7 linked regions of the Homo sapiens genome follow. The protein of the gene in region 3 purifies or fractionates together with the protein of the main gene of each other region. This does not show direct contact. Each region holds a gene or a part of one and is shown on either strand. Other genes may lie near its edges.

Region 1 (3,500 bases), on a different chromosome or scaffold from region 3:
AAAATAAGACTGACAATGTGTTGATAACTGATAAAGCTGGGTAATGAGTAAATGAGTGTTTATTATACACACATCTTTTCTCCACTTTTGTCTTAAAACTTTTAGGAAAGTTTCCAAAAAAGACAAGCATAAGTGAAATTTTTTGAACTGATAAATATGAAATAATTGTAGCAGTATGTGACATATTTTTTTCTAACAGAACATGTTTCCCATTTTTTTCTGTAATAATGAAATGCACAAAAATCAAATTTGTATCACATCAGTTACCCAGAAAAGTTTGATAGAAGGTTTTCTGGTCAAAGTTTAATTCTCAGAAAACTTTAAAGAAAATTCCAGCTCAGGAAAGGAGAAACCTTTCTAAGAGGCAAGATATACTTCACACAGGTACATAATTTGTCATTTTCACATAAAATCAGTGACCTTCATAATTCTTAAACATATTCAATAAAATCATACAGCAAACACTAAACATACACACTTACAAGCAATAAAATCATAATAAATATATATGTATGGAGCCTATTGTGTTAAATAAGAATTACTGTCTAAAAAATTAAAGGTCACGTAATCTTTACTGCTACTACTATTAATACTACTAGGCCTAATTCTGGAGTTAACTGAAGCTTTGAGCAAATAAGCAATATCCAAAGTATTAAAAATTGAGAAAATAAGAAATATAGCATGTCCTCAAATACGATTGTTTTGTCCGTCTTTTTTTATAACACGATGGGTGCCAGTGGTGGGGAGAGCTGAGGCCCAGCCGCGACCACTATCTACATGGAGTTTGCATGTTCTCTCCCTGTCTGCATGGGTTTCACTCCAGGTACTTCAGTTTCCTCCCACATCAAAGCTACGCAAGTTAAGTGAACCAGCACATTTAAATGGTCCCAGTCTGCGCGAGTGTGAGTACACCCTGCGATACGATGGCATCCTGTCTAGGGCTGGTTCCTGCCTCGTTCCGCCAGTTGCTGAGATACGCTCCCACTACCCAGGAGCCTGAAATAAAACAACTGGGTAAATAATTACCTTACTTGTTTTTATTTCTTTCTTAAATGAATGTATAGCTCATATTTATTTCAATGATTAATATCAGAAGTGTTTTAGATCTTTATTTAGAAGTTTGGTGATTTTTTGTGACCAAAATATGGCATAGGAACTTAAATCTCATTTGTATCAATTAGCCTATGGTAAAACTGGTTTCATTTCATTTAAAGTTGCAGTTTTCAAGAACCTATCAGTAATGTTAAGTGAGAACTTATGGTATAGAAAAATGATGCATATACCAAATAAGTGGAGGAAAAGGAAAATTAGAGGAACATGACAGAATGTGTCCAAATTTGTTGACAAAGAAAATAAAAAACATTGATCTAAATATTTAAACGCTACGAAGTAACCTTTGAAAGTAACTATGAAACTGAACCCACCTTGTCAAAGCAAACAAGATTGAGCTGTCCACAAATATTTATTCTTTGAGGACTGATACAGAAAATACCGATTTTTTTCAGTCTTCTCTGAGCATACACAATACCAGCAGTCATTGCAGCAGGAAGTGCAGGGGGCACAGTAATTGTGATAATATCAAGAGACTCGATAATTATGACCCCAACTTGTACCTACAATTAACACAAAAATAAATGTCAAATCCCCAGTATTATTTACGGATTTAATATGGGTATTTCTTTAGTGAAAATCTGTAAGCCATTTTCAATTGTATATTTCAATTTTATGTATGTGTGTGTATATACATATCTATTAACCATATATAATTTTTTTCTTCAGATATTTCTGCAAAATAAAAAAGCTCAATGGATTATAGAATGACAGCTACTTTCAAAAGAAACTTATCTCATTTTCAAGGCGCTACATACTTCACACATGACACACTTCAAAGCCGGTCAACAATCATTATCAGATATTGACTCAGCGTGCACACACCTTACTGTACCACTCTCCACTTCTGACAAGCGGCGCCTTCAATTAACTAACCACAAATCATTTTAACACTGTATATTACATCTCAGAGGTAAAAAAGAGAAAATAAAGCTTTTGGTGATTATGTGGGGGGGTTTTTTTTCCTGTTTTTTTTTTTTAAAGTCACAAGACCAAGTAAAAGACCATCTAAACCAGAGGCACCCAAAAGAAGTATCCTTTACAATGGAAATGTTCTATAGCTGGGCTTTCTAATATCATAGCTACTAGTCTCATGACTTTGTTAGCATTAAATTAATTAAAATTAAATTAGCTTAAAATTTTAGTTCCTCATTCTCAGTAGCCACATTTCAAATCCTCAATAGCTGCATATGATAAATAATTGAGGTTCAAACCCTATTAAGAGTCCCACATACATACCTCATTTAAAATGCTATTAATAATAGTGTAGATAAACCCAATGCCAGCAACTGCCACAAGACATAGTAGAAACAAGTAGGCATCTCTGTAGAGTTTAAAATCAGTTGGTTTGGGATACAATATGGAACGAACAAGCTGTCCTTTGGAAGTACTAAATCCTTTCAAAAAAAGAAGACAATTATTGATATTTTTATAAGAAAATGAGAATTATCTCCCAAAACAGAATCTCTCTTTTTTTTTTTTTGAGACAGAGTCTCGCTCTGTCACCCAGGCTGGAGTACAGTGGTGTGATCTCGACTCACTGCAAGCTCCGCCTCCTGGGTTCACGCCATTCTCCTGCCTCAGCCTCCCGAGTAGCTGGGACTGCAGGCGCCCGCCACCAGGCCCGGCTAATTTTTTTGTAATTTTGGTAGAGACGGGGTTTCACCATGTTAGCCAGGATGGTCTCAATCTCCTGACCTCATGATCCGCCCACCTCGGCTTCCCAAAGTGCTGGGATTACAGGCGTTAGCCACAGCACCCAGCCCAGAATCTCTTTTTAAACATTTAGTAGGTATCAAATATGCTGAAACATGCAAAAAGAGATTAATTAAGATGTTTCCTACCTGTTCTAACAACTATGGCTTTGACGAGTTCTCCAGTGTAGAAACGAGTCTGAATAACAGTTGTCCCACAAAACAAAGTATGTCGTTTATGTGTTTCTGGATTATATAATTCATCTCCTATTCCTTTCACATCCACTGAAGGATTTGGCAAATTAGTCTTTGTCACTGGAACACTTTCTCCTTTAAAAAACAACAACAACAACAAAAACAGTTTACAAATTATTAAACGAAAGCACAGGAATCAGTATCGAACACCAAAAAATATTAAATTGTTAAATATTTTAAATGCTACCATACTGTTTACAATAATCACTGAGAGTTGTATATGTGGACAACATGGCTTAATTTTTTGTCTACCAATTTCCTCACATAGAAGTATCAAATATTATCTCCCACAATAATTCCAGAAAGTGATTTGTGGCTCAAAGGTAATATTTGTTTATATTTAGAAACAGTTGCATTGTTCAGTTTCAAATAATTTCAAAAAAGATTAAGTAGTTGCTATAGTCCCTGCACCTCTAAGAACTAATGGTAACAGTGGAAAGC
Region 2 (3,500 bases), on a different chromosome or scaffold from region 3:
GAGTAGATCAACAGAGAATTTATGAGAGGAAAAACAACTGATTTGCCAGAATAATCATAATGATAATCTTTGATCTTTATCAGAAAGTAAAGAAATGCAGACTAAAGCAAGCTGTCACTCCCCCACTGCCCGCCACCACCGAGACGGATTGTTGCTCTGTCACCCAGGCTGGAGTGCAGTGGCGCAATCTCGGCTCACTGCAGCCTCTGCCTCCTGGGTTCAAGTGATTCTCTTGCCTCAGCCTCCCAAGTAGCTGGGATTACAGGCACCCACCACCACGCCCAGCTAATTTTTGTATTTTTAGTAGAGACAGGGTTTCACCATTTTGGCCAGGCTGGTCTCGAACTCCTGACCTCGTGATCTGCCTGCCTCAGCCTCCCAAAGTGCTGGGATTACAGGTGTGAGCCAACGCACCTGGCCAAGATGTCACTTTTATTCCTTTATCAGGTTAACAAGGATGAAAAGCCAACTACATGATACTGTTGAGGTGCAACAAGACCTGCAGGCTCAAGTGTATGGCTGGTGGCAGTATAACCCCATGAAAGTTATTTCTCAATGCATATCAAGAACTTTAAATGTTTCCTTTTAAGTACTGAGTTTACTCCTGGGAAGGTATACTAAGGACATAATTTTAATTTTAAACAAAGGTTTAAACAGAAATAACCTTTCACTAGCATATCAAAAATTTCAAAACACCCTAAATATCTAATAATAATGGAAGAATGATTAAGTAAATTTTTATGCCTACTTTCTGAAGTACTATGGAGATACTTTAAATGTTTATGAAGATTTTGGAATAATATGGAAACTTTTAATAAATACTAATTAAGGTTCTGATCTAAATACTAGAGATAAAAAAGCTGCGTAAGAACCCTCAAGGAACTTAAAATTAAGGGAGTGGTTCCAAGATGACCAATTAGGAACAGCTCCAGTCTACAGCTCCCAGCGTGAGCGACGCAGAAGACAGGTGATTTCTGCATTTCCAACGAGGTACCAAGTTCATTTCACTGGGGCTTGTCAGACCGTGGGGGCAGGACAGTGGGTGCAGCCCACTGTGTGTGAGCCAAAGAAGCGCAAGGAGTCAGGGAATTCCCTTTCCTAGCCAAGGGAAGCGGTGACAGACAGCACCTGGAAAATTGGGTCCCTCCCACCCTAATACTGTGCTTTTCCAATGGTCTTAGCAAACAGCACACCAGGAGATTATATCTCTGACCTGGCTCAGAGGGTGCCACACCCACGGAGCCTTGCTCATTGCTAGCACAGCAGTCTGAGATCTGCAAGGTGGCAGTGAGGCTGGGGGAGGGGCGCCCGCCATTGATGAAGCTTGAGTAAGTAAACAAAGAGGCCAGGAAGCTCGAACTGGGTGGAGCCCACCGCAGCTCAAGGAGGCCTGTGTGCCTCTGTAGACTCCACCTCGGAGGGCAGGGCATAGCCTGAAACCTCTGCAGACTTAAATGTCCCTGTCGGACAGCTTTGAAGTGAGTAGTGGTTCTCCCAGCACAGAGTTTGAGAACAGACAGATTGCCCCCTCAAGTGGGTCCCTGACCCCCGAGTAGCCTAACTGGGAGGCACCCTCCAGTAGGGGCAGACTGACACCTCACATGGCCCAGTACCCCGCTGAGAAAAAGCTTCCAGAGGAATGAATGATCAGGCAGCAACATTTGCTGTTCAGCAATATTCGCTGTTCTGCCACCTCTGCTGCTGATGCCCAGGCAAACAGGGTCTGGAGCGGACCTCCATCAAAATCCAACAGACCTGCAGCTGAGGGTCCTGACTGTTAGAAGGAAAACTGACAAACAGAAAGGACATCCACAACAAAACCCCATCTGTCCGACTCCATCATCAAAGACCAAAGGTAGATAAAACCACAAAGATGGGGAAAAAACAGAGCAGAAAAGCTGAAAAGTCTAAAAATCAGAGCACCTCTCCCCCTGCAAAGAAACGCAGCTCCTCGCCAGCAAAGGAACAAAGCTGGATGGAGAATGACTTTCACAAGTTGAGAGAAGAAGTCTTCAGATGATCAAACTTCTCCGAGCTAAAGGACGAAGTTCAAACCCATTGCAAAGAAGCTAAAAACCTTGAAAAAAGATTAGCTGAATGGCTAACTAGAATAACCAATGTAGAGAAGTCCTTAAATGACCTGTTGGAGCTGAAAACCATGGCACAAGAACTACGTGATGATGCACAAGCTTCAGTAGCCGATTTGATCAACTGGAAGAAAGGGTATCAGTGATGGAAGATCAAATGTATGAAATTAAGTGAGAAGAGAAGTTTAGAGAAAAAAGAGTAAAAAGAACGAACAAAGGCTCCAAGAAATATGGGACTATGTGCAAATACCAAATCTATGTCTGATTGGTGTACCTGAAAGTGACAGGGAGAATGGAACCAAGTTGGAAAACACTCTGCAGGATATTATCCAGGAGAAGTTCCCCAACGTAGCAAGGCAGGCCAACATTCAAATTCAGGAAATACAGAGAACGCCACAAAGATACTCCTCAAGAGGAGCAACTCCAAGACATGTAATTGTCAGATTCACCAAAGTTGAAATGAAGGAAAAAATGTTAAGGGCAGCCAGAGAGAAAAGTCAGGTTACCCACAAAGGGAAGCCCATCAGCGTATCTCTCAGCAGAAACTCTACAAACCAGAAGAGAGTGAGGACCAATATTCAACATTCTTAAAGAAAAGAATTTTCAACCCAGAATTTCATATCCAGCCAAACTAAGCTTCATAAATGAAGGAGAAATAAAATACTTGACAGACAAGCAAATGCTGAGAGATTTTGTCACCACCAGGCCTGCCCTAAAAGAGCTCCTGAAGGAAGCACTAAACATGGAAAGGAACAACTGGTACCAGCCACTGCAAAAACATGCCAAATTGTAAAGACCATTGAGGCTAGGAAGAAACTGCATCAACTAATGAGCAAAATAACCAGCTAACATCATGATGACAGGATCAAATTCACACATAACAATATTAACCTTAAATGTAAGTGGGCTAAATGCTCCAATTAAAAGACAGACTGGCAAATTGTCAAGACCCATCAGTGTGCTGTATTCAGGAGACCCAGCTCATGTACAGAGACACACATAGGCTCAAAATAAAGGGATGGAGGAAGATCTACCAAGCAAATGGAAAACAAAAAAAGGCAGGGTTTGCAATCCTAGTTTCTGATAAAACAGACTTTAAACAACAAAGATCAAAAGAGACAAAGAAGGCCATTACATAATGGTAAAGGGATCAATTCAACAAGAACAGCTAACTATCCTAAACATATATGCACCCAATACAGGAGCACCCAGATTCATAAAGCAAGTCCTTGGAGACCTACAAAGACACTTAGACTCCCACGCAATAAAAATGGGAGACTTTAACACCCCACTGTCAACATTAGACAGATCAACAAGACAGAAAGTTAACAAGCATATCCAGGAATTGAACTCACCTCTGCACCAAGCGGACCTAATAGACCTCTACAGAACTCTCCATCCCAAATCAACAGA
Region 3 (3,500 bases):
TGTCACCCAGGCTGGAGTGCAGTGGTGCCATCTCCCTGCTCACTGCAATCTCCACCTCCCAAGTTCAAGTGATTCTCCTGACTCGGCCTCCCAAGTAGCTGACATTACAGGTACCCACCACCATGCCCAGCTCATTTTTGTATTTTTTAATAGAGATGGGGTTTCACCATGTTGACCAGGCTGGTCTCAAACTCCTGACCTCAAGTCATCCACCTGCCTCAGTCTCCCAAAGTGCTGGGATTACAAGTGTGTGCCACCACACCTGGCTAATTTTTTTGTATTTTTAGTAGAGACTGGGTTTCATCATGTTGGCCAGGCTGGTCTCAAACTCCCTGACCTCAAGTGATCTGCTCGCCTTGGCCTTCCGAAGTGCTGGGATTACAAGTGTGAGCCGCCGCGCCCGGCCGGCTCTGAAGGAATTTTGAGTTTTCTGGTCAAAGTCATGCAGGTAGTTAGTATGTGTGCATCCTAAAGTCCATGTCCCTTAAATGACCCCAGGACCAGGGCCACCAGCACTCAGTTCACTCTGTGGGGCTCCTGTCTGCCTGGCGGCACCTGGCCAGAGACCCTCCAGCAGGAAGGATGCCTCCTGCTCACTCACCGAGGTGATGGTCATCACTATGTTGACGACGCCAGAGCCCACCGTTACATATTGGGAGTGAGCGGCCTCCACGCCCGCAGATGTGTAGATGGTGTCCGCATAGTAGTTGATCTAAACAAAAACACAGGGCTGTCAGGACAGGCCGGAAGACCCAGGACGCTGGCTTAACTTTCTCAACTCAAGCCACACACAGTTCTGCAAGCCTGGGTTGGGGACCCTGGGACAGGAAGAGGGTAGCAGGTGGTGGGAAAAAGAGGCCTGACCTGGAGTCGGGACACCAGGGTGGAGCCCGGCGCTGCCCTGGAATCCAGGGTCGCAGCTCCTCCCTCTCTGGGCCTCAGGTTTGGCGTCTATAAAATGGAAGTCAGACCATACGACCTCCAAGAGCACTTTTCCCTCCATCATTCAGTTACTCTAAGAGCTCAGATCCCAAAGAATGACTTCTTACCTCTCACTCTGGGCCAAGCCAACCGCAAGTTGAGTCTGTCTTCTGGCCCCATGCCAAGGACATTGGCACAAACAGCCCTTTGAAAGGCCACGTGTGCTATTCCACATCTGGTGGCTCCCACCTGGGCCATCTACCCTCCCACGATCACTGGTTAAACATCCATGAATCCCTGAGGCCAAGGCCACCTCTTCCCGACACGCCACTGGAGCAACTGGGTCACCCACCCAATCTCCAGTGTTTTAGCTTCTGTCAGATCTCCACCCTTCCCTCACACCATGGTTAGATACAGTTACAGCCAAAGAGCCACGGTCGCAGAAAGCGATGCCACAAACATCACAGACAAGTGGGCCCAAGATGGGCTCCTGACACAGGCTGGGCCTACCAACCCAGGCCTGGTGACCTGAGCTTGGACCCAGGAGACCTCAGCTCATCTCAGTCTAGCTGGTCTCTTGTATAGAAGGGAAAGGACTATTGGCAGGAGGCATTCCTTCTGGGGACTGGGAAACAGAGAAAAATGAAGCTGGCATGTGGGGAGAGGCAGAGCACGGAGGCAGAGAGGAGTGAGGTTTCTTCCTGACATCTGGCTCTGCCTGGACTGATCCTGGCCCCACTGCCAGGCCAGGCCTCTGTGGGTGGAACTGTGTGTTGCTATCCATGAAGCCTGGGTCTGCTTCATCTGTCTCCCTGCCTGGCCACCGTCCCACATACCGCATTGATGCCCGACAGCTGCTGGCCGGCCATGAGCACGATGATGGAGAGGAGCTGCCAGCGCAGGGACCGCAGGGCACAGAGGTGCAGCACAGACAGGTGGCCCTCGGCGCGCTCGGCCCGGGCCTCCGCACGCATGTCCTCCAGCTCGGCCTCCATGTCCGTGTGGCCTCTCAGCCTCCTCAGAGCTGCGGAAAGCAGAACCACCCGCTCAGAGGGCCGTCTCCCTGCAGGCTGGGCCCCAAGCCCCCATGCTGGCCCTGAGCTCACCATTCCCTGACCTGACCTTGGTTGTGCCCCAGTTGCCACCCCCCCACCCCGTTCAGCTCCCAGCTCTCACCCCTGACCCATGGCGACCCTGACTGTGGCCCTGACCGTGTCTCTGCCTGGCCCCCGGGGTGGGCAGGGCCTGGGAGAGTAGCCGGCGACTTCATACCTTGTCGCGCTGTGGCTTCATCTCCTTTCTGAATCAGGGAGTAGCGGGGGCTTTCGGGGAAGAAGGGCAGGGTCAGCAGCTGCAGCAGGGCGGGCACCCCTGTGAGCGCCAGAAGCACCGGCCAGCCTGCAAGGAGCCAAGGACTCAGGATCCCGGGGCCTGGGCACCCCCTGGCCCACCTACCACTGTGCTCGGAAGGTCACGCTCCTATGTGTGAACCAAGGACTGTGGGGACTTCATTCTCACCAGGGTACTCCTACAAATGGTTTCCACATTCAAAACGGAGGGAATCATGAGAGTTATACAAATTTACACGTCATTAATTATTTTGCAGGAAGAACACCGTTTCTCTAAAGAATAGGCAATGATTTAAACACTTGAACCCCGGAGAAAATGAGCTCAGTCTTGTTCCTACTTTTATAGCAGGAAAGGGGATAATCTCTGCCTCATTAGGGCCATGGTAGGGCAGGGCCTGGACCCTGCGCTGGGTCTGAGTGAGCTCCTTCTGGATGGCTTGGCCTAAGGAGGGGAACTGAGATTCCACTAAGAGAACAGGGTCTCCGTCTGCCTCCCACCCCTGCTGGTATGGTGGGAAGTGGACAAGTTCTTTTTTTTTTTTTTTTTTGAGACAGAGTCTAGCTCTATCAGCCAAGCCGAAGTGCAATGGTGCGATCATAGCCCACTGCAACCTCAATCTCCCAGGCTCATGTGATCCTCCCACCACAGCTTCCTGAGTGGCTGGAACTACACGCGTGCATTACCGCACCTGGCTCATTTTTTTTTTTTTAATTTTTAGTAGAGACAGAGTCTTGCTATGTTGCCCAGGCTGGTCGTGAACTCTTGGGCTCAAATGATCCTCCTGCCTTGGCCTCCCAAAATGCTGGGCATGAGCCACTGCACCCAGCTGACAAGTTCTTTAATGTCTCTGAGCCTCAGGCAAGAAGTGGCGAGGGCTGAATGAGGCACAGGTGCTAAGCGTCATGCACGGTGGATTCCCCAGCTGATGTCTCTCTAATTGACGATTTAATACTCAGCGGCTCTGGGAGTTTAGGAATCATTACTGTTAACGATCTTTCATGGAGCACCCTCCAGGTTCTGAGTCTCTGAACCTCTTCAGGGTACTGTGGGGACCACAAAGACATAAATCCACCCATTAAGGAATATGTGCAGAATTTGGGTCATTCAGAAATGTCTGTAAAAAACCCCGGCCGGGCATAGTGGCTCATGCCTGTAATCCCTTCACTTTGGGAGGCGGAGGCAGGAGGATTACTTGAGCCCAGGAGTTACAGATCAGCCTGGACAACATA
Region 4 (3,500 bases), on a different chromosome or scaffold from region 3:
ATTTCACAGGAGCAAAGGAGACCACACTAAGGTCAGGGTTTCCTTGAGAGAGGCGACAAGAAAGACTGAAAAATGTCACAGCTTGGAATCTGATTGCTTAAATACATCCTCTATTCTAGTCTTATAAGCTTTTCAGCTGGTAAATCAAAATCCTGTTATACACTAGGATAATATTCATGACAATTCCCTATATTTTATCTTCTTAAAATCAAAGACTCAATTCTAAAGGGTTAATAGAGGAATTACAAAGTAACTCTCTAGTTTGCATTTCCCATAATGCTAAAATAAAGCTTTTTCTTTTAGTCTAGAAATTTGCTTTTTTAATACTGTGAAAAGCCTCTATGAATCTGTTTAACGTATTTATTTCTTTTCATCTATTCAATGCCACTGGGCATAACATGTAATGCAGTGCGTGTTGATATTTTGCAAAGCACCACATGACTCACTGTACCCTAATGCACTCCATTAATCCTGTTTGGACAGCTGGGTCCAGGCATTTGTTAGCTGCATTTTAATTGTTCCATCTTTCTTTTTTTTCTTTTTATTTATCTCTATGGCAAACTACTCTGGAATTTAATTTGTTGGCCTTCAAAAAGTAAATTTTACCATTAGTTTGTTTTCTTTGTGTTAAAACTATACTCAGCATGTAATTTTCTTCCATAAAATCGGTATATATTAATGATTAGCAATCAATCTTAAATAATAGTACAGTGAATGAGTTTCCTAAGTATTAAAATGATAGGTTGGCTGAAATATAACAGAAATTATTTAATAGACTGTCATAATATAAATGATAACATTTAACATCAAATCAGGTTGCTAAAGAGCATACTTTTGGCATTTTCAAGATTCACATAAGCAGATGTCAAAACAATTACAAGTCCTATAAAGCAAACACAAAAGAAATAAGACTATTACACACACCAGTTTTTTATTAGCTTATGGAACAGTGGTCCCTTTACATTTATACTTTTTGTTTTCTATTACAAACATGAAATCCTTTGTAAGAATTATGAAGATAACTACAAAGCTTCTACTTTCTTTGCACAGCCTGCATCCCTGGTATCTGTAAGTCTTCAATAAATAATGGAGGCAATATGAGAGCTAATGCAAAAGCAACTCAAAGTTACCAGCAATTTTTGTTATGAGCAAGTAGCTAAAATTTAATGATCAAAATTTTCCAATCATTCGTGTGCACTCTTAAGTCAAAACCTAAGTCTAGAGAATTAGATAGAAATGCTTAATGGAAACTTTTGTCTGAAATAATATTTAGTGAAGAACTCAGAATATGGTCTACAATAGCATTTTATAAAAGACAACTAAGGGAAGACTTACTCAACTATTTCAATGACAAAGCAAAAATCTGTTTTTCTTTTAAAAGATTATCAAATTCTCCGTAAACTGAAACAATAAGAAAATGACAGAAATGAATGACAGGCAAGTAGGAACTCTCAAGGGTGTCCTTTGAATCAGAGTGTGTTCTCAGAGATTACACTGCGTTCACCTCTATTTTGTGGACACAAAGCAGCTTAAAATAATTTACAAATTTTCAATTTTTTAAACCATACTAAATTATAAACGCTCAAAAGCTTTTAAATAGAAAAATTAGTTTAATGCAGTTTCCTCACTAGAGGACTCGAAAGCCTAACTTATAGATGTGTCAGTAAAAACAAAATACAACAAAAACCAGCCCGTTGTTTGGAGAAAGAATGCTTTTAAGTGTTTAAAAAATAAGTAGTCATTATTTGATAAAAGTATTTGTCTTGGTATGCCCCTATACATAAAGTATAGAAGTAAAAGTGTAAAATAATGTAGGAAGAAACACTGTATTTCAAAGGTAATCTTTATGAGTAAATGTTAAATAAGTTCAGTAAAGACAGTTTTTAAAAACATGGATCTTTAAGTGAAAATTTCTCACTGAAACTTACCCAGTGTTCTCGACATCACAGGCAGAGCAGAGCTCAAAACCAAGATGGACACACAATTTCCAATGATCTGTTATGAGAAACGAGAAAGAATATTGGGCAGTTAAACAGCAGGATGACAATCAAACCCAGTAACATTCTGAGAAATGATTGTGCATTCTAGTTACCTAGTGTACTTTGCCGATTTCTTAATGATACTATTCAGTACAGAATTTTCAAAGAATAACACACTTTTAAAATAAATAAAGTTATATCTGTAAGTTCTAGAAGATGTTTACAGTACCTAGCACAGATATAGTTATAGAATACTTAAATTACTTGACACCTAGATAATGCACTTTACATTACTGATTGCAGCTGTTACTTTCAAAAGGCTCTGCCTGTCAAGCAAAAAATAATTAACATATTGGATACTTCTGACTACATTTTTAAGGCCAGATTATTGCTTAAGATCTCTTTTATCACATCTATTTCTAATGTTAATTGTAAGATTTAAAAAGCACCAGAAATCCAAAACCTCTAAACTTTTGTAATAATGCATCCCATGTTTATTCTTCCATAGTAAATAAGAGGAGTTGAAAATATCAATTAATATTTATGATCACTTAAACTAGATACTAAATATCTCAACTACTTATTAAGTTTAAAGAAATAGCTGTGTGTGTGTGTGTGTGTGTGTGTGTGTGTGTGTGTGTGTGTAAAATAACTTCTCCCCTTTAAGTAGGCTAAAAATATAAAATAAAAACAAAACAAGCTTTCAGCTCTTATTAGTTATTCTTCTTTGTCAGCCTACGGGAATATTTTATAAAGATTCAGTCACTATATACGGCAACAGCCTTTTTATTCTGAACCCAATGACATGTTGTGGAAAAAGTCAAATTAGCCTCAGACTACAAAATGTTTCTGAATAGAACTCTTCCGTCTTACTTTAATTATTCAAATTTGAAATACTTTGTCCCTACTACTTGTAGCAACTAAGTTCTTCAGACTTCAAACAAGCTCCCTGAAGTACAGTTAGCACAATCCAAGTTACTCATTAGCAATACGTTTTCTTTAGAGGAAAAAGAGTCCTTTCAGGAGCCTTCTATAGCTAGTTAACAAGCTCTGCAGTTCTCCGCATTTACAGTGAATGGACGCCATCCAAATTAAACAGGGTACATCCCTTTCCCACTCACTCAGCATTTTGAAAATCTTCCAGTTTGTGTTTACGCAACTTACAAACAAATACCTATCACTGCAAATGAACCATTCAGAATGACTATTAAATAAAGCAGTCTGTCAGGGAAGGCAAACGAGAGGCCACAGTCACCTAAGATTCTACCTTACCTTTGTCATAGTTGTGTCATCTTTCTTGGGAGTAAAGTTTCCAAAAAATCGAAGGCTATAGAAGCCGACAACAGAGGACACCATAAGATAGCTGTGAGAATCAAGGAAAAAAACTCTCCAACAGAATGCAAGTTTCCTAAGTTCTCGGCAGTCTCCAAAAAGTCTTAAGGCCCATAGGAAAAGCAAAACAAAAAGCCGCTTTAAGTGCTTGAGGAAGACTAACCTGTTGTTTTCTCTTCTAGACAAGTG
Region 5 (3,160 bases), on a different chromosome or scaffold from region 3:
TTTAATCTTTTATAATGTGAAGATTTAGAACCAATCCTTAAATAGTAAGAAAGTTAGAACACAATCTAATACAGAATCAATCATATTCAGGACACCCTGAATGCAAATACTTCATAATACAGTTTTATAGTTTAATGGACAATGTTTAACATGGCACCTCTCAAATCTGATATATCTTGTGGTGCTTACAATTTGCCTTACACTTTCATTTAAAGTTACCCTGTTCTCCACTCACCACATGTATAAAATATCCTATTTTTTCTCTTAATGTTTTACAAACCGGTAATTTTCACTATCAGTAGCGGATCTTTTTATAACTCACCCTATGTTGCCCAAAATACACCAATAATATAATGATTAGATTAAAAAACTTGGCATCTTTTTTAAAAAAATGTGCTTTCTTTTCCGTGTATAAGATTCTACTATACCATTTGTGAATGACACCCTAGTTACATAACACCTACATATCTGCCCCTGTGAGAATTTACCTTAGTCTTCTAAGACTCTATCTTCAACAGTTAGATAAGTCAATAACCAGAGTTCAAAGAAAAGTAGTTACTTTTTAAGACCAAATTATTGGATAACTGGTCTTGTCAATATGGCTTAACATTAATATGGCTATAACATAGGGACTAGCCCGTTTTTTTTTTTTATTAACAATGTGACCTGATCACAATTCTTTAAAGTCTAGACTAGTTTTCCGTATGTTTTCCACATTTTATTCTGACATCATATCTTTTAAAAACAAAAGGATGCGAACATTTGCACTTCTCAATGTTTTTTTTTTTCCCATAGATGTAGTTTCACTTATTTCCTTCAGGCTTTTTATCAGCAAGAAGCAATGTCTGATTTTGATACCACCCATTTGCTATGAAAATATAAGAAGGCGTCATCTTCAAAGCAACACTCCAGTTGGGCTTCTTCATCGTTTAGCTGCATGATTTCTTCTACGACATTTGTAACAGACACAACGTATATAGAATTTCAGTTTGGGTTTTTTTATCCTTTTTTTTCTTTTTTAAAATAAGTATGTTTTCTGCTTATTTGTGTTTTCTTTTCTTTGAATATATTGCACAATATTTTATTATTAAAAAAAGGTTTTATGTCTCAGGCAAAAAGTTTTTCTCCTTCAATCGGGAGGTGTTAATGTGTATTATTTTCTAAAAGAGGTAAGTGGTTGTCTGTGTGGCCATCCTCAAAAGGAACCTAAGGAGAAAAGGAGGGAAAAAAAGACCAAAGAATTAGTTTTATTCCTTATACTCTTTCCTCTAAACACAAGGTTTTATTTTGGGCAATCCTTTCTAGTAACCAAAAGCTACTATTTCTCTCTCTCTCTCCCCCTATTTCTCTATCTCTCTATCTCTATCTTTTTTGAGGCAGGGTCTGCTCTGTCACCCAGGCTGGAGTGCAGTGGTACGTACGATCATAGCTCACTACAACCTCAACTTCCTGGGCTCAAGTGATCCTCCCACTGTGCCCTCCCAAGTAGCTGGGACTACAGGCTTGCACCACCTTGCCTAGCTAATTTTTTCTATCTTTTGTAGAAATGGGGCTCTCACTATGTTGCCTTGACTGGTCTCAAACTCCTGGGCTCAAGCGATCCTCCCGCCTTAGCCTCCCAAAGTCTTGGGATTACAGGTGTGAGCCACCATGACTGGCTCATAGACTTAACAATGATTCTAAGATTTAGAGATCAGCACCATGTATACTACACCACTTACAGAATTGACAGGTTTATAGGATCCAAGTCTGAAACGACAGCAAATTATTTCAACTATAAATTTTCCAATTCCATGTAACATGCCTGTAATAAACAATAAGTTTATGCTTTTAATTATTTCCTAAACTGTTATTTAAGAATAAATAACTATAATGGAATAGATTACGGAAGAAAACAAAGCAGTTTGCATTATTCACTTCCATGGTTAAAAATAATCAAGAAAGATTTTAAAACAAATGGATTTCTTTTCAAAGTCACAAGGCCACATAATTCACGATCTCAGCACAATCTTTTTTTTTTTGAGACGTCTCACTCTGTTGCCCAGGCTGGAGTGCAGTGGTGCAATCTTGGCTCACTGCAACCTCCACCTCCCAGCTCAAGCAATTCTTGTGCTTCAGCCTCCCAATTAGCTGGGATTACAGGCATGTACCACCATGCCCGGCTAATTTTTTATATTTTCAGTAGAGACGGGGTTTAGCCATGTTGGCCAGGCTGATCTGGAACTTCTGGCCTCAAGTTGATCCGCCAGCCTTGGCCTCCCAAAGTGTTGGGATTATAGGCATGAGCCACTGCACCGGGCCTAAACACAATCTTTTCAAGGTTTTCCCACACCAATACAATTTTGGAAAATAAATGATGTCAACAACACAAATTTAAATAGATTGAAATGAAGCACTAACAAAGAATTTCGAAAGAAAAGCTATTCATTCATTTAAAAATATGATTCTAAGTATAATAAACTACCCAGCTCCATCTAATACTGAATAAGGACTGAAGATGAAAATAGAATTGTTTCCTTTTTCTCTATTGTACTTAACTCCCAATTTTCATCATTACAATTCGACAAATAATCTTAGCGAATTCCAGGATCTCAGGACAAAAATCATAAACATGTTACTGATTACAAATCTAGTTTCATGTATTGCATAATTCAAAGTACTATAACATATGATTTTACATACTGTACAGTTAAAAATGTCTTAAATGCCTTCTAGGCATTTTCATATTTAATCCTATAGCACACTTGCAAATTAGGTATTATTATTGCTATTTTTACTGATTAGAAAACCTCAGAAAAGGTAGGTGATCTATTCCAAGCTACCACCAAGTAAATGACAGAACTTACATTCAATTCTACTTCAATCTGATGTTAACACCCAGGATCTTTCCAACTCACCATTATATAATCTACCTTACATCATTGAATACAATGAAATTAGTTATGTTTACTGGTTAGTCAATATAATTTTGGAGTTTTGTAATTAAAGCAAAAGCTATTTAAACACCGAAACATGAAAATCTGTATACTTCTTGCCCCTTTGAGAAGAAGCAACTTAAGTATAAGCAACACTTTCAGAAATTAGACAAAAAGGAAATGGTTGTTAACCTGTTGTTGAAAAGATTCCTCCAACAATACCACAGAGTCTTACAAAAAACTGC
Region 6 (3,500 bases), on a different chromosome or scaffold from region 3:
CAAATTACGGAAGGACCTTGTCAGCAATACGGGGAAACCCTGGCCCTACCTTATTCACGTGGTTAGCTTTGTTTGCTCTTCCCTATGTAAGCCTTCCTACTAATGAGAATTAAAATGCTATATTATATTCATAGAAATTCCCAGCTTTAAGCTGGGGCTCAGAAGTTATAAGGTGCTCAGAATCCCAAGGTGAGTAGGATACTGCTGAGAACTGAGTTTCAGGAGGCTCAGCAAGAAAATCCCCATTGTTTCCCCCCCTATTGTTTCCCCTAAAACGTGCATGACCAAGCACGTATGTGAGCAAGCACGCGCACACACCTCTGACAAGCACCAGAGTCATGATGAGCAGGAAACACATCAGGGTAGCTTTAGAAGATGTACAAGATTTCAGCTAAAATGCAACCCCTTTCTCCTCCTCGACCTGAAAAATGGACTGCCCTTCGGCAGAAAGTTCCTATTTGAGGACTTAAGGAAAATTATTCCCATCGTATTCTATCCTAGACTCTCTGAAACTTTCCTTCCTTAAAAGTTCACTTTTCTAGCTGACCGCAATAAAAACCAGAGCATCGCAGAAGACAGCTCCTAATAAGATTTGAAAGCAGGAGTTGGCTGGGTGTGGTAGCTCACGCCTGTAACCCCAGCACTTTGGGAGGCCGAGGCGGGCGGATCACGAGGTTGAGAGATTGAGACCATCCTGGACAACATGGTGAAACCGTGTCTCTACCAAAAATACAAAAATCAGCCAGGCGTGGTGGCAGGCGCCTGTAATCCCAGCTACTCAGGAGGCTGAGGCAGAAGAATCACTTGGACCTAGGAGGTGGAGGTTTCAGTAAGCCAAGATCACGCCACTGAACTCCAGCCTGGTGACAGAGCGAGGCTCCGTCTCAAAAAAAAAAAGAAAGAAAGAAAGCAGAAGTTTATCTTCAAACATTCATTCTGCTCTAAGTCTAGTTTGGCTCTCTGTCACCCAGTGCCTTCACCCTACCACCCTCTGTCCAAACCTTTTTTATGACACCTTTTCCTGACCTATTCTCTTTAGTATGACTTAACTTCTCTTTAGTATGATATAGTTACAAATTCTAGCTCTACCTATCAAAATTGTATCTCCTTAAGTTGTTAGTAGATTAAAAAAAAAAGATATCCTAGTCAGTCTTCAAACTGAACCTGAAGGTGTGAGTTTGGTTCCCAAACTTATTCAGTGCCAGACATTTGAAAATGATACTGCTCTTTGCAAAGCATTTATATAATTAATTTTATCATAAAAATTTGGAACAACTTTACTAACAAAAATAACTGTGGTATTATGTATTTAATATGTAATCAAACATAAAAAATAAATGTTTACTAAAAAATTATTAAAGGTTAGTTTCTGAATTCTCCCAGTATATTCATTTGTTGCTATTTATCAGTAGCAGGCATCAATAAAGTAAAATACATTAAATAAAGGTAAAATTTAGAAAATTCTATTCATAAACCTTTTTTATCTTCCAATTAAGGAAACTGGAAGACAGTGGAATTAACATATACCCAGAGGTAGTTTCAGAACAATCCCTGTGGCTATCAATACCTCTAAGGAACATTTATTTAAAAAAAAAAATTGTCCTAGTTGGCAAAAATTTAAATACAATTTCTGAAGTCGCTGAGGTAGCTCAAAGAAGAGAATCTTTTTATGGAGGAAGGAAGGTCTTTCCTACACACTCGCTTTCCCTAGAGGAGAGAGATCCTGCTTCCCAAATCCTCCCCAGATGAGAAGGATCTACACAGTGCTTCCTGCCCCATCCCTTCTTTTCCCACCCTCCTCCCTCCGTGGAAGCCAAGAATATCCTGGAACCCTAACCAGACTGTGCCTGCCCACGATGCCTGGGTAAAAGAGACCCTAAATGGTCCCAGTTCTGGGCTGTTTAGACTCAGATGCTGATGGTCTTAAGGACCTGTTCATCTCCAGCCCAGTGCCTCCCTGACAAAGGCTTGGTCTAGGAAGAGCTGAAGGGAGAAACCAAGAGTCAGTCTTTGGGTGCAACTAAACCTGCCCCAAGTCACTTAGATTTTGAGAACCTAAAGGATGCTCAGAAATAATCTGGCTTACCTACCCACTTAGAAAAACTGTGGTGTTTTTTGTTTTTTTTTTTGAGATGGAGTCTTGCACTGTCACCCAGGCTGGAGTGCAGTGGCGCAATCTCAGTTCACTACAACCTCCGCCTCCCAGGTTCAAGCTACTGCCTCAGCCCCACAAGTAGCTGGGATTACAGGCACCTGCCACCATGCCCAGTTTTTGTATTTTTAGTAGAAAGACGGGGTTTCACTATATTGGCCAGTCTGGTCTCAAACTCCTGACCTTGTCATCCACCCGCCTTGGCCTCCCAAAGTGCTAGGATTACAGGCATGAGCCACCATGCCCGGCCAGAAAAACTGGTTTTTAAGCAATTACTGTATTTAGAAAGTATTTTCTACTTGAAAATTTTCAGTTAACACTTACATAGAGTCACAAAGGTCATAATTAAAATCTGTGTCCCGGATCCTAGAAAGACTGATAGCAGCATCCCTTTTCTTGGAGGACGGAATATATCACCATGAACAAGTTTCCAGCCAAATTCTTCCTGGGCATCTTCCTAAAAGGGGAATGAAATCAGTTCGATTGTCTCATGGTATCAACAAGACAACTATAGACAGTTTGTTCACTGTTGAATATGCTGTTACAGAAAACAGGTTTTTTTTAAACTTAAAAATGTTAGTACCTATTTCAATTTTGAAGAATACAGCTTGACTCATGGAGCTTAATATGGCTTTGCTGAACTGTCTTATATGTCAGTTTCTTAAATTTATGACATTAAGGTCTACAAATATACTTATTGAGAAACTTTACAAAGACAATGTGATTGCTACCTAATTCTACTCTAAGTCAAGCTTTGTGATCTGACTTGATGACGATTTTTAGTCACATTCTATCCTCTTCATCCTACTCTTAATGATCTCCACAATAAGCAAATGGCATTAGCTCTCATATTCTAGCTACTTTGCTAATACAGTAAGCATGGATGTAAACATTCATTGAGCACCAACTATAAGCTCGGCTCTGTTTAAAACACCAGATACCACAGTGAGTGTAACAGAAAAATTCCTACTCTCAGGAGTACATGATCTCATTGGGAAGGCAGACAATAAACAAAATAAGTCAGGAAAGTATACTGTACATTAGATGGTAATAAGCGCTGTACAGAAAAACAGGATGTATGGGTGTGTGCAGGACAGGATGTAACATATGTGATGGCTGGGAGGGGTTCAATGGGAAGATCACATTTTGTAAAGATCGGAGGGAGGTAAGGGAACTAGCCATGTAAATGAGGGGCAGACCTTCTTAGCAGATAAAACAGTGAGCTTCGTGAAGGCTCTGAGGTGGAAACCTATGTCTGCCTGGTCTGAGGAACAGCAAGGTAGCCGGCACAGGTGCAGCAGAGTGCTGAGGTAACGTGGGGCCTTAGAAGCCACTGTAAAGCCTCTGA
Region 7 (3,394 bases), on a different chromosome or scaffold from region 3:
ATTCTGGTTTCTCCAGGCCTTCATAGAGCGAGCTACGGAACGCTTTCACCACCCGGATCTGGAGTGGGAGGTGGAGGGACAGGGCGCGAGGTGGGAGCAGGGAGGGAGGAAAGGAAGGGAAAGGAAAGGAAACGTGGAAGGAAGGTAGGAAGGAAGGAAGGAGACAGTCAGTGGCCGGCTGGTGCTGGTAAATTCCACCCACGTCAATGGCTGGGGGTCATGGCATGAGAAATGTCCACCCATTTGTTGGAGGGCTGCTACGGAATGGGATGGCTCTGCCTGCCTTTGGAAAGAGTTTTCAGGTGTGGGCCTTGGTCTCGTCAACCGATCCGCATGCAGGAAAAGATGGCAGTGTCTTTCTCTAGGCTGAGCTGGGCAGGTATTCTGGAACTTGAGAGTGCTGCACTAGGCTCTTGGCTGTGACCCCGCAGTTCCCTGTCCTGGGGAGACGAGTGGCTTTGGTGACCTCTGGGGTCTCTGCCCAATCTGAATTCCAATTTGGTAGAAAAGAAAGATGATTTGAAAAGGAGAGAATGCTGGTGAGTGGGATGTCTTCTCGATCTTACCAGAAAGTCCGAAGTACCTGCTGGTATGAGCAAGTTCCCAGCCTATGGGCACTGCCGGCCTTTCTCGCATGGGTCTCCCTCCATCCCCCAGCTCCCATGGCTGGAGCCGGGACCTGCCATGTCGAGGGTCTCCCTGCGGCTAACTCCACTGGCCACTTCTGCATCTTCGTCTGATTTGATCCCTCAGGGCACTCAACACAGAAGATCATCCCTCTTTCTGGAAGCTTCTCATGGCTTCCTGACATTGCCCCTGCCTGGCCCTCTTCCACCTCACCAGCTGCCCTGGCCCCATCTCCTCCACTGCCCTCTCTTCTGTCCCTGGGTGCCCCAGAGCTCTGGCCTGGCTCTGTCCCTCCTCCTCTCTGTCCATACCTCTCCACCCTGGCCACAGTGCTGGGGCCCATCTGGCTATAACCAGAAACTGTGGCCCAGGCCTGTACTCAGAGCTCCAGGCCAGAGAGCCCAGCAGTCCCCAGCTGGAGGTATCTGAGACCGAAAATGGCCACACTTTTGATTTGCACCCACTAAAGCCTGTCTCTGCTCAGATGCCCCTGTGGCCTCCTCACAGCCCCCGTGTCTGACTGGGTCTGGTTCAATCTGGTGCCCCTGCTCTTCTGACCTCACTCCGCCTGTCCTCTCTCCCGTCTCCTCCTCCATCTTCCAGTCAGACATTCCAAAACTTGCGTCTCTGCTGCCTCCCGGGCTCCGCTCTGTGTTGTTCCCTGGCCATCCCTCCCCACAGGAGTTTGCAGACCTCAGATCAGCGGAACTTCCCGCATGAAAGAGCTCCCGCTGTGCCCCAGACTCCCCCGGCACAGTGGCCCTCTGCCCCCAGCTGAGCGCACGGCAGCCCTTAAGCCCCCTGACCCTCCGGCAGGGCACTGCTCCAGGAGCGAGCCCTTCCCTCCTCTGGCTTCTCCACCTTGCCTCACGCACTCAAGTCCTTGCTGCCTCTCTTTGCTCCCTGGCCCCTCAGCCTGGGCCCCCTCCTGCTTCTAGAAGCCAGGAGTTGATGGGGAGGCCTCTGCCTGGCCTCGCACAGGCCAGTGTCAGCACAGCCGCCAATGGTAGCTGGCCCACCTTGTACTGCCATCCCTATAGGGGGCAGCAGACGGAGCGCTGAGCTGCCAGGCAGACCCTGGGGTTCATCCAACACCTGTCCACCCCTGCCTATGTGAGCAGGTGGACACATTAGGAGTTCTGAAGCATTTCTGGGGCCAAGGTTCGACCTAGGATTTGGTTTTCTGGGTTTAGACAAGGTGTCAGGGCTTGCTGAGGGGCTAACCCCAGCTCTCTGCTAGTTTTGGTTAATAAAATTTTACTGGTTTAAGTTTCATGCTGTAAGGGCACAGTTGTGTCACGGCAGCAGAGACCAGGCCTGGAAAGCTAAAAATATTTCCTCTCTGGCTCTGTCGTTTAGACAATTAATCACCTTTTTTCGGTGACTTTCTTTCAGCCCTCCAGGGGCTCAGCTAGGCAAAGCACAGTGCTTCGGAATCAGCTGAAATGATGCCAACCTCATCACCTCTCCAGTGCAAAAAGTGAGCCAGGGCCAGGTTTGGTGGTCCACGGCTGTAATTCCAGCACTTTGGGAGGCCGAGGCGGGCTGATCGCTTGAGCTCAGGTGTTCGAGACCAACCTGGGCAACAGAGTGATACTCCCCGTTCCTATTTAAAATAATAATAAAAAAAAGTAAGCCAAAAAGCTCCACATTGGAATTTTCTAGCACCCCATCTGAAATCTGGTTCGGATTTTCTCTGCATTCGGGAAAGCCACATCTGCCAGACGGCAGATGGTCAGCTATTCTCACTCAGGCCTTTATCCCCAGACTGGTTTCTGAATTAGGGGTAACACAGAAATTGAGAATAATTTGACGTTTTTAATGAAAAGAAACAGAATTCAGTTTTCGTAGCCAATGCAGATGTTGCCTCATTATTTAGGCCTTTTCTGGTACAGGATTGTGGTGTGGAAGCCGCCTGGGACATCGCCTGCTAAAGCTGTTGCCCATCAAGTCACAAAAAGGACAAAGTGCTGCAGGCCTTGACCCCAGGGCTGTGTGGGGTGAGATCTCGCTGAGCTGGTGGCCTCATTCAGACCTGGGGGCATGTGATCAGGCCAGGCCCCTGCTCAAACCTATGCACAGGTCTCACTGCACCTGGCTCAACTCCAAAGACCTCCATAAAGGACAGCCAGGCCACGGAGCCAGCCCTTCCTTCCAGGCTGGGCTTCTGCTGCTACTGCTCCTCCGGTCTCACCGGCTACTCCAGCGTGCCCCTCCCGGATGGCATCTGCCTTGTTTGTGGCTTAACAACAGAGCCTGGCCCAGAGCAGCTGCTCAGCAGACACTTGGGGAATGCACAAGTGACTGAGTGAACCGCTGCAGGATGGAAGGGCTGCCCCCCAACATTCTGCTGTTTGGGGGTGCTAAGCTTGGCTGGAGTCCTGGTGAGTCTGTTACAGCTGACAGTGAGTCAGCTTTCTCCAGGCTCTATTTTCCCTGCATCCTAATCCTGGGCCATTAAACAATGTTTTGGTGTTGGTGTTAAGGTGGGGTGTTTTCAGCCCACCCAACACTGAAGGATGCAGTCGATTCCTGGGAGATTGGTTCAATGGAAAGCAACAAACGTTTCTAAGAGAGGCCCATCCCAGAGGGCTGCACTCCTACCTGGGTGCTCAAGGATGCCCTCCTTCCACCAGCCTGGGTTCACTCTGTCCTCATCTCAGGCTCCTGCACCGCCTCCTGCTCTGCTCTCAGCCCAGGACGCGCCACGCCCCCTACTGCTCCCAAAGGAATCTCATGGCCCCCAGGGCTGTCAATGCTGTCTATA

The links.
Region 1: the proteins of SLC2A7 (region 3) and ATP13A3 purify together in Homo sapiens (affinity purification with mass spectrometry; one large-scale study listed by BioGRID and IntAct). This does not show direct contact.
Region 2: the proteins of SLC2A7 (region 3) and RABL3 purify together in Homo sapiens (affinity purification with mass spectrometry; one large-scale study listed by BioGRID and IntAct). This does not show direct contact.
Region 4: the proteins of SLC2A7 (region 3) and LMBR1 purify together in Homo sapiens (affinity purification with mass spectrometry; one large-scale study listed by BioGRID and IntAct). This does not show direct contact.
Region 5: the proteins of SLC2A7 (region 3) and ERGIC2 purify together in Homo sapiens (affinity purification with mass spectrometry; one large-scale study listed by BioGRID and IntAct). This does not show direct contact.
Region 6: the proteins of SLC2A7 (region 3) and TM9SF2 purify together in Homo sapiens (affinity purification with mass spectrometry; one large-scale study listed by BioGRID and IntAct). This does not show direct contact.
Region 7: the proteins of SLC2A7 (region 3) and ATP2B3 purify together in Homo sapiens (affinity purification with mass spectrometry; one large-scale study listed by BioGRID and IntAct). This does not show direct contact.

Annotation. Positions count from the first base shown.
Region 1 is NC_000003.12:194,445,503-194,449,002, forward strand, and holds part of ATP13A3 (polyamine-transporting ATPase 13A3), read right to left. Parts: intron 3,135-3,500; coding exon 2,955-3,134; intron 2,508-2,954; coding exon 2,350-2,507; intron 1,614-2,349; coding exon 1,425-1,613; intron 1-1,424. UniProt on the Homo sapiens protein: ATP-driven pump involved in endocytosis-dependent polyamine transport. Uses ATP as an energy source to transfer polyamine precursor putrescine from the endosomal compartment to the cytosol.
Region 2 is NC_000003.12:120,736,017-120,739,516, reverse strand, and holds part of RABL3 (rab-like protein 3), read left to right. Parts: intron 1-849; exon of another isoform or gene 850-990; intron 991-3,500. UniProt on the Homo sapiens protein: Required for KRAS signaling regulation and modulation of cell proliferation. Regulator of KRAS prenylation, and probably prenylation of other small GTPases. Required for lymphocyte development and function. Not required for myeloid cell development.
Region 3 is NC_000001.11:9,012,924-9,016,423, forward strand, and holds part of SLC2A7 (solute carrier family 2, facilitated glucose transporter member 7), read right to left. Parts: intron 2,320-3,500; coding exon 2,194-2,319; intron 1,946-2,193; coding exon 1,758-1,945; intron 713-1,757; coding exon 602-712; intron 1-601. UniProt on the Homo sapiens protein: Probable sugar transporter. Even if its physiological substrate is subject to discussion, it is able to transport glucose and fructose. Does not transport galactose, 2-deoxy-d-glucose and xylose.
Region 4 is NC_000007.14:156,722,184-156,725,683, forward strand, and holds part of LMBR1 (limb region 1 protein homolog), read right to left. Parts: intron 3,343-3,500; coding exon 3,252-3,342; intron 1,996-3,251; coding exon 1,929-1,995; intron 1-1,928. UniProt on the Homo sapiens protein: Putative membrane receptor.
Region 5 is NC_000012.12:29,340,013-29,343,172, forward strand, and holds part of ERGIC2 (endoplasmic reticulum-Golgi intermediate compartment protein 2), read right to left. Parts: coding exon 3,108-3,160; intron 1,805-3,107; coding exon 1,722-1,804; intron 1,207-1,721; coding exon 1,144-1,206; 3' UTR 1-1,143. UniProt on the Homo sapiens protein: Possible role in transport between endoplasmic reticulum and Golgi.
Region 6 is NC_000013.11:99,542,972-99,546,471, reverse strand, and holds part of TM9SF2 (transmembrane 9 superfamily member 2 precursor), read right to left. Parts: intron 2,610-3,500; coding exon 2,477-2,609; intron 1-2,476. UniProt on the Homo sapiens protein: In the intracellular compartments, may function as a channel or small molecule transporter.
Region 7 is NC_000023.11:153,576,642-153,580,035, reverse strand, and holds part of ATP2B3 (plasma membrane calcium-transporting ATPase 3), read right to left. Parts: intron 59-3,394; coding exon 1-58. UniProt on the Homo sapiens protein: ATP-driven Ca(2+) ion pump involved in the maintenance of basal intracellular Ca(2+) levels at the presynaptic terminals. Uses ATP as an energy source to transport cytosolic Ca(2+) ions across the plasma membrane to the extracellular compartment.